Regions from separate parts of the Homo sapiens genome. Here region 2 is linked to region 1. The links come from fine-mapping of genetic effects on gene expression. Tissue or cell type: whole blood. Region 1 holds a variant in brackets; the other region holds the start of a gene. All regions are shown on one strand. Distances are between the middles of the regions.

Evidence for each region. PIP is the estimated chance that this variant, and not a neighbour inherited with it, causes the effect.
Region 2: it holds the start of UQCC1, and the variant in region 1 is fine-mapped to the expression of UQCC1 in whole blood (TOPMed, PIP 0.90).

The regions. Positions count from the first base shown.
Region 1 is chr20:35,327,352-35,332,999 of GRCh38, forward strand. The region is part of intron 7 of UQCC1 (ubiquinol-cytochrome c reductase complex assembly factor 1); the gene reads right to left. Among named protein-coding and RNA genes, the nearest start is that of FAM83C, 38 kb to the left of the region's middle. The variant A/G (reference allele first, on the strand shown) is at 3,078.
Region 2 is chr20:35,408,558-35,414,205 of GRCh38, forward strand. It overlaps UQCC1 (ubiquinol-cytochrome c reductase complex assembly factor 1), which reads right to left and starts at 3,416. Exons shown (of 10, transcript NM_018244.5): 1 at 3,383-3,416. The coding sequence starts at 3,406. RefSeq lists enhancers at 2,748-3,571, 3,162-3,261, 3,322-3,471, 3,572-4,394, 3,602-3,651.

The DNA.
Region 1 (5,648 bases):
GTACAATTGCCAAAATACTGACCCAATGGTTATCTGAGAAAGAGGCTGTTCCCTGCTGAAGACATGAGGAAGCAAAGGCTCAGAAAGGTCAAGTGACTCACCCAATTATCACTTGGCTAATAAATGGTCAAGAGGTTCACAGAGACAAGGTCTTCTGGCTCCTAGTCCAAGTTTTTTTGTTTGTTTTAAGGCTCAAACAGAATTGCCACTCAGTGGATAGTTTGTACATTCCTGTAGAAGCATCCTGGGAATGGCTGAGCCTGGATCCCAGGTAGAAGCCATATGATCATTCTTACTTAAGTAGTGAGGTGGTCAAGGTTGAGGCCAAGAGTGAGGTTCAGATATCCCTTAAAATGGAATTGACAGAGCCGGGTGCAGTGGCTCATGCCTCTGTAATCCCACCACTTTGGGAGGTTAAGGCAGGCAGATCACCTGAGGTCAGGAGTTTGAGACCAGCCTGGCCAACATGGTGAAACCCCTTCTTTACTAAAAATACAAAAATTAGCTGGGCATGGTGGTGGGTGCCTGTAGTCCCAGCTACTAGGGAGGCTGAGGCAGGAGAATTGCTTGAACCAGGAGGCAAAGATTGCAGTGAGGTGAGATTACGCCACTGCAATCCAGCCGGGGCAACAGAACAAGACTTTGTCTCACAAAAAAAGGAAAAAAAAAAAAAAAAGCATGGAACTGACACAGCCTGTGAGTTCTGAGAGTGACTCCATCTTTATAGGGTAATTCTCTTTTGTCCTCTTTTCTCAGTAAAATGTTCTTAGAAAGGTATTTTATCCAAAGGAAAGAGACAAACTCAGTTAGAATGCTGTATGTTAAAGAGATGATCTCTTTGGTGTTCTGTATTTAAGTCCCAACTCAGACCTAGGAAACGCACTGAAATCTAAGTAAATTTTGGGCCCCAACAGCCCTGTTTCCCCACCTGGTGAGTCTGAAAGATTAATCACTCTGAGCCTCAGTTTTTCCATCACAACTATGCAAAACCACCTTTCCTTTTTCCTTTTCATATTAACAGATGAAAATGCCTAACAGTAAGTAAATTAGTAGTGGCAAACATCTATTTCACTCTCAGGCATTGTTTAAAGAACCTCACATGTGATAACTCATTTATCCCTCACAATGCTACAAGCGATGTAAGGTGGGTATTACAGTTATGTCTATTTTACGGAGAGAAAACTGAGGCATAGAAAGGAAACAGGCATAGAGACCTTGCCCAAGGTCACATGGCTAGGGCAGGATTTGAGTCCAAACTGGCTTCAGTATGTGAGCACTCTCAACTACTCTGTGATACTGCATTGGAAAGGAGGTTATAAACTCAACCCAATCCCCCACTTGGAGATGAGAGCCTGGAAGTCTCTGAAGCTTCTCTCAGGACCTTGGGGCTCACCTACTCTCCTGCCTCATCCTCCCATTACACTCAGCCCTGCCCTGGGATAACTCCTGGAAGAAGCCTGCAGTGAACACAAAACAAAAAAGCAAGTGAACTCATATCTTTCTCGTTCGTCTGTTTCGTGTGGAAGTGAATCCAGGAAAGATTCAACTTCCTTTCTCAGCATAAACTAGATTGTAAGCCCTGTAAGATCACTTATCTCTGGTATATTATCTACCAACCACATTCAGGGATTAGCATGTGGCGAGAGACAAAAATGTTCCTTGAATAAATGAATGAAACAATTCTTAATAAAACCATACAAATTAATAATGCTACTGGATCTAGAGGAAATACATTCAATATTGCCTTCATCAAATGTATTCAGCACTACCCAGGCATCAAGCACTGTTTTAGGAGCTGAGGCTACAGCAGTAAACAAGAGACAATTCCCGAACTCCGGGAGTTTAGGATGATTAGTCAGGCTGCTGAATGATTTGCAGAATGAATCTGAGATGAAGAGAGTCAAGAGGCAGGAGGACCAGTGAAGAAGCAGCCGACAGTGAGTTTAGGTGAGAGGTCAGGACTGGATCTGAGCATCAGTAGGACAGTTGAGGCCCTGATAGTGGTTGTTTTAAAGAAGGGCTCCTTATAGTTCCTCCTGCTCCTTTGAGAACCAGGCACGTCACATTGATGGCAAGGATCACTGACATTCAGAAAGACCAGCTAAAGAGAGGACAATGAACATGGAAAAACAAGTCCCTCCACTCTAGCTGGGCCCCTTCAGCTCCAACCAACCCCACAGGGCCATTCACTCAGCATTTTGGGGGAAACAAAGTGAGAAAAGAGTGTTACAGCTGCCTCATCAATGGATCCAGAAATACTCATGGCACACCCAGGGCAGCTGAAAGAAACATCTGTCTCTACTGTATCCTAGGTCTGACCTCAGAGCCTCCAGAACTTTTTTACATAGCCCCACCCAGATCCTGGCGGAGCTACTGCCCTCTGGTGGTACCCAATGCAGGGGTTAAGCCCACAGGAGAAAAGAGTCTTGTGGTAGGACATGGAGTGAGAGGCATAGTCAACCCCAAGAGCTCGTCACAGTGCCTGTATGTCTTACTACTGCAACCACTGCTTTTTCCAAAGACGCTATTTACAGAAAACTCTGGTTAAAATGCAAGAGTTATCTGGGACCATTAAAACAGATCCTGTTGGCAACCCTTAACGATTTGGCATGAATTTAATCAGGTAAACTGCAGTGTAAGTATAGAATTGATTCTAAGAAGATAGGGTTAGGAATAGACTCTGTGAGTTCACTCACTCATTCACCATTCAACCAATATTGGATGGAGGCTTACCATGTGCTAAGCACTGTGCTAGACACTGGAATGCTGACCTTAAGAGAAAAGGATCAGGAGGTCTTTGATTGGAGGCTTTTCCCAGCAACACAAAATGCAGGGTGTGTGTAGTGGCTCTAGAGAACAGCAAAGATGATAGTATCAAGTAACGAAAAGAGCAACAGAATCAATCAAGAGAAGTGAGTTTTAGTCTCTGCTACTACCGCTACTATATGACACTGACCAAGCCTTTTTCCTGACCAGGACTGAGTGTCCTCACTTGGAAAGGGTTGAATTAGGATCATCTTTGTGGCTGTCAAGCTTCTAGGAGCTTGGCGGCCACTGAAATGATTAGGAGATGGCAT[A/G]AAATAAAAACACTGACTGCTTGGCAATTCTGACCAGCTAGGGCTAGCCCTGGGTGGGGCTTCCTGCCATCAGCCAGGGCAATCTAAAATTCCTTTACATAGTTCCTGAGGATCATCACCAAGTGAGATTCTTCTGACATCCATACCCAACCACTTCATCAGACGAGATACCCCTAGTACGTTATGAACCCCACATTTGTCCCCAACTACCCTAGTCTCTTCTGGTCCCTTTGAACTGAGGCTATTAGGGACGGAGCCAGTTCTTCCAGTGCTACAGGGCAAGAGAGGCTTGGAGAAAAGTAGAAAGTTTTGCAAACTGTGTTCACTCTTGGAAATTCTACCCTGGGCTGGAAAATTTTTATCTCATGGATTTTTTTTCAAGCAGGAAAGGCCCTTAGAAATAACCTGGTCCAGGCTCTGCATTGGAGCCTGCTGGTTAATTGTGGAACTAAGTCTAACTCCACTCTTGTAGCTCCAAGATTGGTGAGTGTTTTTCAGTTCTCCCACTGTCCTTCTAGAGGGAGGCTCTTCTCTGGCAGCCAACTCACCTTGGGACCTAAAGCACAGGAGACGATAAACACCTTCTGTCTTTGAAGGAGAAGGAGTATAGCCACAAACACCTATCGAAAATGCCAAAGACAACAAGGTTCATTTGAAATCTGAAGAATCTTAGCAAAACGGTATGGGACAGGGATGAAAAGAAGAGCAGGAGACAGAAGCCTGCTCAGCGCTTAACAGGAATCATCTCCTACTTGCCCCATAACCATACACATACCACAAGCCAGCTGATTCCTAACCCCAGCAGCTAAACTGCCCAAGGCCTAGGAAAGGGGGCAACACACACAGTTTACACCTTTTATTATTCTGATCAAAATTTCTCTCCTGGGAGCAGAAAGGGGTCAAAAGTCCAACACCAAAAATATATATCTTTATAAGTCATGGGCAAAGAAGTATTACAGCAGACAGTTATTTAAAAAAAAAAAAAAAAGCTACGGTGAACAGAGCAGAGTAGGAGGTGTGAGAAAACTCACTCCAAGTAATTTATTCACTGGGAACCACAAAGGGCTTTCCCAAGAACAGCAAAAACACCATTAATTTCTCCAGTACCCTCCTTTCAAAGGGCTCCAAACACTTCACACATATCGTTTTAAATTGTCCTCAAAGGCTCCAAAATAAGGGGTTACTATTTCCCCAGGCACAGATGGAGAAACTAAAGCATTTATGCCCACCCTGCTCTGCCCAAGTCATCCTAAAAGATTCAGCCAACATCAACTGAGTGCCTGCTATGTGCCTTACTCATGCCAGGCAGAACAGGAGACGGATGAAAGATAGGATCTTTGTCCTCCAGAAAGCCAGAATCCAGTGTGGTGTCACAGATGCACCTATAAATCCCTTCAAGATATGACAGCTTATGCTAGGTGCTATTGAAAATGTCCAAATACAGCATCCTGATAGCTCCCATTTATCAAGTACTTAATATGTGCCAAACACTGTGCTAAGCCATATTGTTTAAGTCACATAACTGTGCGTGACTTACCTTATAGAGGATGGAATGGAGACAATGAGAGGTAAAGAGACTTGCCTAGGATCTCAAAGCAACATTGTGGCAGAGCAGAGATTAGAACCTATGTCTGTCTGGCTCCAAAGACCACATGACAGGAAAAGAACTGTTTGGAAAACTGGGCACCGGCCTCTCAACTTTCTAGCACTGAATGCCACACTTTAGAGGCGAACAGCAGAACACACAGGGGCCCTCACTAGATTTTGGGGGAATGGCCTGTTTCCTGGGCCCAGAATTGTATGTGCATGTACTAACTGGGATTCTCCATCATGGGGACATCTGAAGCCAAAGGTAGGTGTGTCTTCCAAAAGGGAACAGAGCTCTCTCTGGGTAAAGGAGAGCTGAAAGGTCCTGAGCTCTTCTTGCTCCTTTGGTAAGTACTGAAAATGGAACAGGACTAGAAGGTATGGGATTCCCATGCTGGCTTTAACAGAAGGTTCACAGCCTGCAGGAAGGCATGGTGGCTGCAGTGCACATGCAGTACGGTATCCTTTTCTCAGAGCCAGAGTAGAACTCTTGCTGGGGAAGGAGTCCTCTGCTGGAGAAGGGCCTGGCTTAGTGACAGCTCTGCAGAGCTCACCTGGTGGCAGCAAGTGCTGCCTCTTTTGCCAAAGCCCCATTTTGGAGGCCAAGGAAGAAAATGCCAGACTTGGAGAAAGAAGAGCTCCCCACACCAGACAGGTTACAAAGAAAATGGTCAGTCCTGGGGAATGCCTAGGTCTTAGCAAGGGCTGGGCTAATAAATCGCTCTATTTTAAGCCCACAGGACATAAGACAGATGCGAGAAAGAGAATGTCCTCCAAACTCTGAGAGCAAAGTTGAGCCTGGAAATAGGAAACCTAATCCCCAGCCTAGCATTCTTCCCACTTACCTCAAGGCATCCTTCTGTAATCGTTTCATATCTTAATTTCAACCTAATAAAACAACAACAAGAACAAAAACCCTTTGATGGAGCCAGGTACTTCTGTGTATTATTATCTCATTTAACATAAGTGACTTGTGCTTCTATC
Region 2 (5,648 bases), 81 kb after region 1:
AACAAATTAAACAGGCTGGACATAGTGGCTCACGCCTGTAGTCCCAGCACTTTGGGAGACCGAGACAATGGATTGCTTGAGCCCAGGAGTTCAAGGCCAGCCTGGGCAACATAAGGAGACCCCATCTCTACAAAAAAGAAAAAAAAAAGTAGCCAGGCGTGGTGGCACATGCCTGTGGTCCCAGCTACTCAGGAGGCTGAAGTGGGAGGATCACTTGAGCCCAGGAGGTCAAGGCTGCAGTGAGCTATGATTGAGCCACTACACTTCAGCACGCATGACAGAGCGAGACCCTATCTCCAAAAAAAAAAAAAGAGAAAATTCTGACACATGCTACAACATGGATGAATCTTGAGGACATTACGCTAAATGAAATAAGCCAGTCACAAAAGGTCAAATACTGTATGATTCCACTTATATGAGGTACACAAAGTAGTTAAACTCACGGAGACAGAAAGTAGAATGGTGGCTGCCAGGGGCTGGGGAGAAAAGACTATAGAGAGTTATTAATAGGTTCAGAGTTTCAGTTTTATAAAATGAAAATAATTCTGTGGATAAGGGTGGTAAAGATGGCACAACAATGTAAATGCACTCAATACCACAGAACTGTACACTTAAAAAGTTTCAAAGGTGGCCAAGCACAGTGGCTCATGCCTGTAATCCCAGCACTTTGGGAGGCCAAGGCGGGCAGATCACCTGAGGTCAGGAATTCAAGATCAGCCTGGCTAAAATGGTGAAACCCCATTTCTACTAAAAATACAAAAAATTAGCTGAACGTAGTGGCACGTGCCTGTAATCCCAGCTACTCAGGAGGCTGAGGCAGGAGAATCGCTTGAACCCGGGAGGCAGAGGTTGCAGTGAGCCAAGATCACGCCATTGCACTCCAGCTTGCGCAACAAGAGCAAAACTCCGTCTCAGAAAAAAAAAAAAAAGTTTAAAAGGTAAATTTTGTTACATGTATTTTACCACAACTTTTTTTTAATTTTCTAAAGTACAGGGTGGCTTTCTGCAATTTTTACTATTTCCAAAGAAAAGCAGAAATGATCAGCAATGCCCAGGACAACTCATAAAAACCATAAGCATGTCCAGTTCCACTGATCAAATGTCCAGGCTCTCTGCTGTAGTCATTCAACAATAGCAGTGTTTTAGTTTCCTCCTCCTTCCCAAAACCATCACTGGAGAAGGGAAAATATTGGCTGACAAGACAAAAAGAGGAAAAAATAAAGCAAGACTAACAAGAATGTTTCAGGAATACTTCTTTTTTTTTTTCAGACAGAGTTTCACTCTTTCACCCAGGCTGGACTGCAGTGGCACAATCTCAGCTCACTGCAACCTCCGCCTCCTGGGTTGAAGCAATTCTCGTGTCTCAGCCTCACGAGTAGCTGGGATTACAGGCGCCCACCACCAGGCCTGGCTAATTTTTGTATTTTTAGTAGAGACAGGGTTTCACCACGTTGGCCAGGCTGGTCTTGAACTCCTGGCCTCAAGTGATCCACCTACCTCAGCCTCCCAATGTGCTGGGATTACAGGTGTGAGCCACGGCACCTGGCCAGGAATACCTCTCTGTGGTTCAGTTTTCTTATCTGTAAAATAGAGGAAATAACACGCCCTCCTTTCCAAAGGGATGTTATAAGGATTAGGTAAGTATTTTAAAGTGCTTAGCACGTAGTAAGTGCCCTATAAAATGATAGTTGTCAGGCCAGGCTCGGTGGCTCATGCCTGTTATCCCAGCACTTTGGGAGGCCGCAGGAGGCGGATCATGAGGTCAGGAGTTCGAGACCAGTCTGGCCAACATGGTGAAACTCCATCTCTACTAAAAATACAAAAGTTAGCCAGGTGTGGTGGCAGGCGCCTGTAATCCCAGCTACTTGGGAGGCTGAAGCAGGAGAACTGCTTGAACCCAGGAGGCAGAGGTTGCAGTGAGCCGAGATCACACCGCTGAACTCCACCCTGGGTGACAGAGCGAGACTCCATCTCAAAAAAAAAAAAAATACAAAAATTAGTCAGGTGTGGTGTGGTGCATGCCTGTCATCCCAGCTACTCGGGAGGCTGGCACAGGAGAATTGCTTGAACCCGGGAGCAGAAGTTGCAGTGAGCCCGAGATGGCACCACTGCACTCCAGCTTCGGCGACAGAGCAAGACTCTGCCTCAAAAAAAAAAAAAAAAAAAACAAAACCCTAAAGGGTGGCAGGGGAAGGATTAAAAAAAAAAAAAAAAAAAAAACCACTAAATTCAGAACATTCTAATTGCCATTTCCCCAGCAGTCCTCATTTCTGAATCAATTTCTGGCCTGAAATCAAACAATCACTTCACCAGGTGAATCTTTCTGGCAGTTACAGGGGCTACTCTACAAATAAATATTTACTGAACAGCAGTCGAGGGTACCTCACTCTGCTAGGCTGGCAAGGAATACAAGAAGTAAAACTGTCGTCCTTGTAAGACATATATAAAAAGATCAAAAACACAAATGTAAAATAACAATTCAGAAGTTACCTAGACACAGGAATAGACCATGTCTACTATGAAAAACAGTGTCTTTGACCCAGTTTTTGAAGACTCGCTAAAACTATACACTCTCCCATCCCTCCATGATTAAAAACTAAGCTCTGTATCCTAACGTTTTTTCTGCTGCCACTTTCTTTTCTCCTTTAATTGCTAGAGAAAAGAGTATGCTAGAAGGGTCAGGACTAAATCTCAAGAGGTGCAGTAGTTTCACACACGGGTGCTAAAGAGTCTGGTAGTCTTTCCTTACTTCATTCATTTATTCAACAAGTAATCATTTAACACCTATGATGTGCCAGACACCATGCTAGGCAAAGTGAAAACGACGGAGACAGACATGACTCCAATTCTCACGCAGCTTTCAATCTAATAATCTATATTCCACTTAACTGTACAGTTAAGAACTGACTTATTACCTATGAAAGAAACCCTGAGAATCTCAGAATCTAAAGGGACTGCAGGAGATAAATGTCCTCGTTTTTCACATAGGGTCAATGAGGCCCAAAAGTGACTTGCTTAAAGTCACTATGCATCAGTGACAGTCAGGGACTAGAACCCAGGCCTCCTGAAACTCCAATCAGTGTCCTACATGCTCCTCTCCCTGAGGGGAAGCAGGTACATGGGGGAGGGAAGGAAAAGTAAACCCCATCAAATAAAGGCCAGATGTCAGTCTTCCCCTTCTCGAAAGATGGGGGAGCTAAGGTCAAAACGGGGTAGGAAGAGGTCGGAAGCTGCCTCAGTTTCCCCACGGAAAAGCGGCCACTCAGCCTAGCTATAACACAGGCTTCCCTCCTGCGATTCCTTCCAATTCCTCCCGCCCTGCCTTGTCGAACTCCAACCCGGGACCCAGAGAGCTACCGTAGAAAATTACTCCTTCACTCACAAGGACTCGCACCAGCAACGCCATGTTCCTCAATAACCATTTCCGGGTGAAGAGTGAGTTTCCGGTGTCCCCTTTTCTACGTCCTCCTTTTGCCGGCGAAAGACTGGCAAGGGGGGCGCAGGCGCAAAGAGGTCGCTACGCGCACGCGCTGTTGTTTTCTCGGCTGTGCACCAGGCTGTCGTGCCCGGGCACGCTCTCCCTGCTGTCTCCCCCACTACACGTAACAGTGGTTCAAATCCTTCCCCCACGCCTGTCTCCTTGACCCCAGACCTCGGGGCTTCTCATATCCCTCTCTTTATTCCCCACCTAACCCAGCCTCACTCCTCAGCCCCTCCTTCCCAAACTCCACCCCAACACTTTTCAATGGAGGTTGAAAAGAACAGGACTTTAGGAAATCCCAATCTTTAGAAAGAGCCAGAAGACCGGGCGCGGTGGCTCACGCCTGTAATCCCAGCACTTTGGGAGGCCGAGGCGGGCGGATCACCTGAGATCAGGAGTTCGAGACTAGCCTGGCCAACATGGCAAAACCCCGTCCCTAACTAAAAATACAAAGAAAGTAGCCGGGCATGTTGGTGTGTGCCTGTAATCCCAGCTACTCTGAAGGCAGAGGTTGCAGTGAGCCGAGATCGCGCCACTGCACTCCAGCCTGGGCGACAGAGCAGGACTGGACTCTGTCTCAAAAAAAAAAAAAAAAAAAAAAAAAAAAAAGCCAGAGAAGGAGGCTAAGATAAAAGAATACGGGGGATACCAGACTCCTGAAAGTCAAGGCAAGAAGGCGGTCATGTGCCGATCTGAAGCCTGGTAGAGGAAGAAACTTTTGGGATTTGTGGTTGGTTGGTTGTTTAAGGGAAACATCTTTGCATATTGATAGGAAAAGATTAGTGAAGAGTATACAGGGCCGTGCCCGGTGGCTCATGCCTGTAATCCCAACACTTTGGGAGGCCGAGGCAGGTGGATTGCCTGAGGTCAGGAGTTCAAGACCAGCCTGACCAATATGGTGAAACCCCGTCTCTACTGAAAATACGAAAAAAATTAGCCGGGCATGGTGGCGTGTGCCTGTAATCCCAGCTACTTGGGAGGCTGAGGCAGGGAATCGCTTGAACCCGGGAGGCAGAGGTTGCAGTGAGCTGAGACTGGGGCACTGAACTCCAGCCTGGGTGACAAAGCGAGACTCCGTCTCAAAAAAAAAAAAAAAAAAAGAGTATACAGGAGAATCAATCAAAGAGGCAAGGAGCTTCTTGAGGAAAGTGGCAGAGAACGGCCTTGGTAGAAGACTCCTCTTCCATTACATCCCAAGAGAAGAGAAGACAAAGTACTGGTGCTTTGGGGGTTGAGGGAGCAGAGGGGCAGGATGTTGAAGGACTTCTTTCATTTCATTCAGTCAACAAAGACCTATTGAGTCTTCCCTATGTGCTGAACACAAGACATACTGGCTTCATGGAGTTCTTAGACTGGTGGGGGAGGCATAGGAACCCAGTGAAAAAAATTAAAACTGGGGAGCTACTTTGGTTAGGTTGGTAAGGCCTCTCCAAGAAAGTGACATGTAAGATGAAATCTAAAGGAAGAAGAGGAGCTAGTCATGGGAAATAACTTCACTCGACTATTTTTTTAATTAAATTTATTGATTTTTATTAATTGACAAAAAATATATATTGTGTACAACAGGATGTTTTCTTTTTTCTTTTTTTTTTTTTTTTTGAGACAGAGTTTCACTCTTGTCGCCCAGGCTGGAGTGCAGTGGCTCAATCTCGGCTCACTGCAACCTCCACCTCCCAAGTCAAGCGATTCTCCTGCCTCAGACTCCCAAGTAGCTGGGATTACAGATGCGCACCACCACGCCTGGCTAATTTTTGTGTTTTCAGTAGAGACGGGGTTTTGCCATTTCGGCTAGGACGGTCTCAAACTCCTAACCTCAGGTGATCCACCCACATCGGCCTCCGAAAGTGCTGGGATTACAAGAGTGAGCCACCGTGCCCCCGGCCAGGATGTTTTAAAATATGTATACATTGTGAAATGGCTAAGTCAAGCTAATTAATATATGCATTACCTCATATTTTTGTGCTGGAAATGTTTAAAATATGTTCTTTAAGCAATTTTCAAGAATACAATACATATTCATAGTGGGTATAGTCACCATGTTATACAATAGATCTTTTCTTTTTTTTTTTGAGACGGAGTTTCACTCTTGTTGCCCAGGCTGGAGCGCAATGGCGTGATCTTGGCTCACTGCAACCTCTGCCTCCCGGGTTCAAGTGATTCTCCTGCC